2 linked regions of the Homo sapiens genome follow. The protein of the gene in region 1 purifies or fractionates together with the protein of each later gene. This does not show direct contact. Each region holds a gene or a part of one and is shown in the gene's direction. Other genes may lie near its edges.

The links.
Region 2: the proteins of ZNF418 (region 1) and TRIM24 purify together in Homo sapiens (affinity purification with mass spectrometry; one large-scale study listed by BioGRID and IntAct). This does not show direct contact.

Annotation. Positions count from the first base shown.
Region 1 is NC_000019.10:57,925,253-57,929,137, reverse strand, and holds part of ZNF418 (zinc finger protein 418), read left to right. Parts: intron 1-1,090; coding exon 1,091-2,988; 3' UTR 2,989-3,515; intron 3,516-3,885. UniProt on the Homo sapiens protein: Transcriptional repressor. May play a role as regulator of the ubiquitin-proteasome system and autophagy-lysosomal pathway.
Region 2 is NC_000007.14:138,575,259-138,578,758, forward strand, and holds part of TRIM24 (transcription intermediary factor 1-alpha), read left to right. Parts: intron 1-1,114; coding exon 1,115-1,187; intron 1,188-2,161; coding exon 2,162-2,330; intron 2,331-3,500. UniProt on the Homo sapiens protein: Transcriptional coactivator that interacts with numerous nuclear receptors and coactivators and modulates the transcription of target genes.

The DNA of each region.
Region 1 (3,885 bases):
AATCTTCCAGTCTCTGGACTCCACATCTCACCCATTTATTTTCTCATGTTTACTTCTAGAGTGCTGTCCGATACTGGCATACACATTGTGTATTAGCAAGTGTGTACAAATTGTGTTTTGTTTTTGGTTTTTGTTTTTGTTTTTGAGATGGAGTCTCTCTTTGTCGCCCAGGCTGGAGTACAGTGGCGTGATCTCAGCTCACTGCAAGCTCCACCTCCTGGGTTCACGCCATTCTCCTGCCTCAGCCTCCCGAGTAGCTGAGACTACAGGCGCCCGCCACCACGCCCGGCTAATTTTTTTGTATTTTTAGTAGAGACGGGGTTTCACTGTGTTAGCCAGGATGGTCTCGATCTCCTGACCTCGTGATCCACCCACCTTGGCCTCCCAAAGTGCTGGGATTACAGGTGTGAGCCACCGCACCCGGCCAAGTGTGTGCAAATTGTTAAACTGTTCTGACCAAGAGCTGTTGTCTTGTAAATCATTTTCTTAGGCCTGGACATAGCCTTCTATATAGCATTAACATGTCATCAGATAATTTCCCGCAGACAAGTGGTTTGCAAAGGAAAGAGTTATACAGCAGGTGCATTGGCTTACACCTGTAATCCCAGCACTTTGGGAGGCCGATGTGGGTGGATTTCTTGAACCTGGGAGTTTGAGACCAGCCTGGGCAACAAGGCGAAACCCCACCTCTACAAAAAGTAGCTGGGCGTATTGGCCTGTGCCTGTGGTCCCAGCTACTGTGGAGGCTGAGGTGGGAGGATCACCTGAGCCCAGGAGACAGAGATTATGCCACTGCACTCTGTGCTGGATGACAGAGTGAGATCCTGTCTCTCAAGAAGAAAAAAAAAATTGTAGACCTTGGCTCAATTCTCTGTGTTGCATGTATGCTAATGCCCTTCATATCATGAGGCCGACATTCTGTGACCTTTATAGCCCAGTAATGATAGCCTCATCTTCCACGTGAAGCCAACTTTCTGTTCCTGCAAATATTTCCATGGAGTAATTCCTTGGTTTGTCAGACACGCTTGTGGGTGGGCTGTGCCTTCCCACCAGAGTTAACTTGAATTCATCAGCATTTTCTTGCTTTCAGGTTGTTGGTGTGGATCAGAAGATGAGGAGGCACCTTCTAAGAAGAGCATTTCTATACAAAGAGTGTCTCAGGTCAGCACTCCTGGGGCAGGTGTGTCTCCCAAGAAGGCCCACTCTTGTGAAATGTGTGGCGCGATCTTGGGAGACATTTTGCACTTGGCAGATCATCAGGGGACACATCACAAGCAGAAACTGCACAGGTGTGAGGCATGGGGGAATAAATTGTATGATAGTTCAAACCGTCCGCACCAGAATCAGTACCTTGGAGAGAAACCCTATAGAAGCAGTGTTGAGGAAGCATTGTTTGTGAAGAGGTGTAAGTTCCATGTGTCAGAGGAGTCATCTATCTTCATTCAGAGTGGAAAGGACTTTTTGCCCAGCTCAGGATTACTGCTGCAGGAGGCCACTCACACTGGGGAGAAGTCAAACAGCAAACCTGAGTGTGAGTCTCCCTTTCAGTGGGGAGATACTCATTACAGCTGTGGAGAATGCATGAAACATTCTAGCACCAAACACGTATTTGTTCAACAGCAGAGACTTCCCTCTAGAGAGGAATGTTATTGCTGGGAATGTGGGAAATCCTTTAGCAAATATGATAGCGTCAGTAATCATCAGAGAGTTCACACTGGGAAAAGACCTTATGAATGTGGAGAATGTGGGAAATCTTTTAGTCATAAGGGCAGCCTTGTTCAGCATCAGCGAGTTCACACTGGGAAAAGACCTTATGAATGTGGAGAATGTGGGAAATCTTTTAGTCATAAGGGCAGCCTTGTTCAGCATCAGCGAGTTCATACTGGAGAAAGACCTTATGAGTGTGGAGAATGTGGGAAATCTTTTAGTCAAAATGGTACTCTCATTAAACATCAACGAGTTCACACTGGAGAAAGACCTTATGAGTGTGAAGAATGTGGGAAATGTTTTACTCAGAAGGGCAATCTCATTCAACATCAACGAGGTCACACTAGTGAAAGACCTTATGAGTGTGAAGAATGTGGAAAATGTTTTAGTCAAAAGGGCACCCTAACTGAACATCATCGAGTTCACACTAGAGAACGACCTTATGAGTGTGGAGAATGTGGGAAATCTTTTAGTCGAAAGGGACACCTTAGGAACCATCAGCGAGGTCACACTGGAGAAAGACCTTACGAGTGTGGAGAATGTGGGAAATCTTTTAGTCGAAAGGGCAACCTCATTCAGCATCAGCGAAGCCACACTGGAGAAAGGCCTTATGAGTGTAGAGAGTGTAGGAAATTATTTAGGGGCAAGTCCCACCTCATTGAACACCAGAGAGTTCACACTGGAGAAAGGCCATATGAATGTAATGAATGTGGGAAATCATTTCAAGACAGCTCTGGGTTTCGTGTTCATCAGAGAGTTCACACTGGAGAAAAACCGTTTGAGTGTAGTGAATGTGGGAAGTCATTTCCTCAAAGCTGTTCCCTCCTTCGACATCGGAGAGTTCATACTGGAGAAAGGCCTTATGAATGTGGAGAATGTGGAAAGTCATTTCATCAGAGCTCTTCCCTCCTTCGACATCAGAAAACTCACACTGCAGAAAGACCTTATGAGTGCAGAGAATGTGGGAAATTCTTCTCCAGTCTCCTTGAACACAGGAGAGTTCACACTGGAGAAAGGCCTTATGAATGCAGGGAATGTGGAAAAACATTTACTCGAAGGTCTGCGCATTTTAAACATCAGAGACTTCATACTCGAGGAAAGCCTTACGAGTGCAGCGAATGTGGGAAATCCTTTGCTGAAACCTTCAGTCTTACTGAACACAGGAGAGTACACACTGGAGAAAGGCCTTATGAGTGCAGTGAATGTGGAAAATCATTTCATCGAAGCTCTTCTCTCCTTCGACATCAGAGAGTTCACACAGAAAGAAGTCCTTACAAGTGAAAAGAAATTTGGGAAATTCTTTAGCTAAACCTCTGTGCATCTTCTTGATCAGAGGGTTCTTACTGGATCAGGACCTTATGAGTGTGACAAACGTGGGATATTCTTTATGCAGAAGTCTTGTTTTATTACATACAGAAGAGCTCCCACTGCAGAAGGGCCTCTTGAGTGCGATGAATGTGAGAAAGCCTTCTGCCTTCTGTCATTGGATAACAGATTGTTCTCATAAGGAAAACACTGTACACGTACAGGAAATATTATTTCTTGTAAAACATAACACTGGAGGAGATGCCTTATGACGGAGCCATCTGCCTAAATTGACATACCTTCAGCATCTGCATAAACTCAATTATGTTGGAGCTGTGTGGCATTTTTCACCCTGCCGGGTTCCCTTGCCAGACATGATGTCGGTTATCTGGCAAAAGCCATTTTATGTCGGCCACGAGGCAGGTGTTCACTGTGCATCATTCATTCACCCCATGATGTTCTGGAAGTAAACCTTGGTTGTCTTTCGTTGGCCAGAGGAATTGGTGAGTAGTCTCAGCTGTCATTCCTTTCTCATTTCTTTCGGATGAGCGAGACCATGGATCTGTCTCAGTACTGGTCCAGAGGGGTCTTCTGTCAGCTTGAAAAGATGGACTACCTTTTTCAGGGACCTTATGGGTCTCATGTGATATTTTTTTTTTTTTTTTGAGACAGAGTCTCGCTCTGTCGCCCAGGCTGGAGTACAGTGGCGTGATCTCAGCTCACTGCAAGCTCCGCCTCCCGGGTTCACGCCATTCTCCTGCCTCAGCCTCCCGAGTAGCTGGGACTACAGGTGCCCACCACCATGCCCAGCTAATTTTTTTGTATTTTTAGTAGAAATGGGGTTTCTCCGTGTTAGCCAGGATGGTCTCGATC
Region 2 (3,500 bases), on another chromosome or scaffold:
AATGAAGCATGTATTCTTATATTATCAGGAGATTATAAATAGCCATTGTTTTGATTGATTTTGAGGCAGGGTCTCACTCTGTTGCCCAGGGTGTAGCAATCATGGTTCACTGCAGCCTCATACGCTTGGGCTCTAGTGATCCTCCTGCTTTAGCCTTCCCAGTAGTGGGGACTACAGGTAGGTGCCACCAGGCCTGGCTAATTTTTTTTTTTTTTTTTTTGGTTAGAGACGGGTCTTTGTTGTCCAGGCCTTTTATTTTTAAATTAAATTCTCCAGAGTTTACAAACCAATGAAATGATAATCTTCATTTTATCAGCCACATCCTGTTGTTCATCAAACCTTTTAGAACTTCTGTCAATTCGGAATTTTTTTTCTACTTCCCACTTTCATTGTATTCCTACTTGTTACTGTTTAGTTTGGGCCTTCATCAGTTCAAATCAATTATTTGCAACAGTTTTCCTTCTTTCTTGGCTGCTTTTAATTAGATCTTCCTTGTTCCAGTCTACACTACCACCAGAGCATAGCTTCTTAATCTTTTTAGGGCAGTAGTCCAGAATCCCTCTTTTGTTTATTGCCTTAAGTCTGAACCCATTGATCTTTCTGTGTCTTCCATTAGTTGGTTTAATTTTGTTTACTTGGTTTTCTTTTTTGAACTCCTTTTCTATCAGCCCGTACCACCTTTCGTTGTCTTCTGTAGCTTCCACTGGCACTAGGGTCTCACTGAGATCTTACCCCTGTTACTCTAACACAGAAAGACTTGGCAATGTTTGGAGATGTTTTTGATTGTCACACCCCAAGCTGGGAAGTATAGAGAGATGCCACTGGTATCTAATAATTGGTGGAGGCCAGGGATGTTGCTAAACATCCTGAAATGCAGAGACATTCCTCCACAACAAGGAATTATCTGGCCCAAAAGTCAATAGTGCAGAGGCTGAAAAACCCTGCCGGTGTAACAGGCTGTAACAGACTGCTGAAAATTCAGCAACTACTTACTGTTTCATAGAATTTCATCATGGTTCCCAGTTTCAATGTAGTGCTAAGTGAACACATTCAACAGGACTTCAATGCATAATTATTCATTCGTTTTATGAATGTATGGTTTCCCCCTCCTCAGGACCTGTTACTATGACTAGTGTACACCCCCCAATACGTTCACCTAGTGCCTCCAGCGTTGGAAGCCGAGGAAGGTAAACTGACTAAACCATATTTTCTAGTATATAAAAATCTCTAATTAGATTTCTTTTGCCAGTGTTCAACATGTTTTGATACTCAATATATTTTGAACAATTTCCTTTATTTTTAATTAAAATTTTAATAACTACTATATATTTTAATGAATTAGTTAAGGGATTAACAAAAGTACAAATTTACCTTTGAAGATAGAAGAATATTTGTCAATATGTTGAAAATAAGAAATGTTGGATATTCATATAATAGCAAAGAAAACATAAAAATGAATAGGCATAACACAGTACACTATATAGAAACACAAATTTAGAGAAAAGATAAAATTTTATGCTAATTTGATCTCTAATGACTAAATGTTGATTCTACTTTAAAATAAATATACAGTTATTGAAATTCTATATTTTAAGCAACTGCTCTCCTCTTCCCTGCATTATGCCTGAAAATTCCTCCTAGCTAGTGAACCCAGTTCTTACTTTATCATATGGAAGAATTGTCTGAGGGAGAAAAGTTTGCCTTTAATCCCATGAGAACATAGTGAATCTCTGTAAAAGCTTTTTGACCCACTACCTTCTTTAAATAGTATTGTGTAAATACATGATTATTTCATTGTCTTCACCAAAGTATTCACTTTGCTACTGACTAGAGAAGGAAATGAGAAAGCCTAAAATCAGATGCCAGTTCTAAGATACTAAATCTGGTTGCCTAATTGTAAAGCCTCAGGTTTTTAAAAGTTTAGGTTTATTGAAACATCTTTCTAGATATATAACTATTTAGATAGGTTAATATGTAAAACATTTTTATCATAAATGAAACTTGCATACACCAGTTTCATTTGTTATGCATCATTAATTGCTGATGTTAACATACTTATTGTTGTGAAGATACAGTATTTTAGAAAGTTGTTGTTATACTTTTTATGAGGTATTTAGCTTAACATTCTTAGATTGCTTTTTCTTCTCTCTCATACTTACAGCTCTGGCTCTTCCAGCAAACCAGCAGGAGCTGACTCTACACACAAAGTCCCAGTGGTCATGCTGGAGCCAATTCGAATAAAACAAGAAAACAGTGGACCACCGGAAAATTATGATTTCCCTGTTGTTATAGTGAAGCAAGAATCAGATGAAGAATCTAGGCCTCAAAATGTAATTATGAATGCTTGCAATGCTATTCCTATGCATGGTGGGTAGGGTGAGAGAATCTTTTAAATAGCTCTTAGGAGTTTTTTTTTAATGTTATATTTAAAAGGATTTAAAGACAATTTGAGGGAATCTCTCAGTAAATTAAACAAAAAGACAAAGATGGAAAAACAGGAAAGTTTTTAAAAATCAGAGGCTCAGATATGGAGGCTGGGCAGTTAAAAGGAGATATTCTTTCTTTAATCAGAGTTTTATACCCAGGCAAATTATCAATCAGATTGACTTGAAGATTAACTAAACATTTTCGTGCAAGTTCTCAAAATAATTCTTATGTACTCATTCTCAGGAAGATACTTGATAATATGAATCATCAAAAATATAGTAAAACAAGAAAGAAGACATAAGATTCCAAAAATGGAATCTGACACAGAAGAAAAAGGCAACCCCCAGTACAGCAGCAGCAGCAGCTTGTGCAGTAGTCTGTAGCAGGAAGACATAGGACTCCCAAGGGAGAAAAATGCTTCAACAGTATTGAGAATCTCCTGTTGGAGATTGTGAGAATAACATAGAAATAGGTACCTAGAAAGATAAGCAACTGAAAATATAAGGTAATTACAGAGTCTTAGTAAAAACAAAAAGTTGTACAAAAAATGTCTTAGTACATTTTGTGGGTCTGCAGTGAACAATATTTAAATAATAATAATAATGATGTAAACAAACACCTGAGTACGAATGTAACTAAAAACTGTGATGCAATCAGGATATAACCTGAATATGCACTTAACCAAAAATTGTGATTTTCAGAATACTTAACCAGTACAAGACAAATACTGATCAGTTAGAATAGATACTGGCAATAAACAGTTATACCAGTACCTACCAACTAAAACAATCAATGCTTAATCAAAACTAAGTTAAAGGGATGGGGTGAATGGTGGTGGTGGTGGTTTTGTGTGTGTGTGTGTGTGTGTGTGTGTGTGTGCGCGCACGCACGAATGGAAGCAGGACGGGGTTGGAGAATCAGAATGTAAAAACCTAATCTCCTGATCTTCACTAGTAAGGATTATAGATGTATTGCAATTTTTAACAATCATTTTATTTAGAAATATGGAGGTAAACAGCAGAAGAAAAAGCTAGGTTTGAAAATAGTTCTTCCAAGGAATAAGTGCTTTTAAC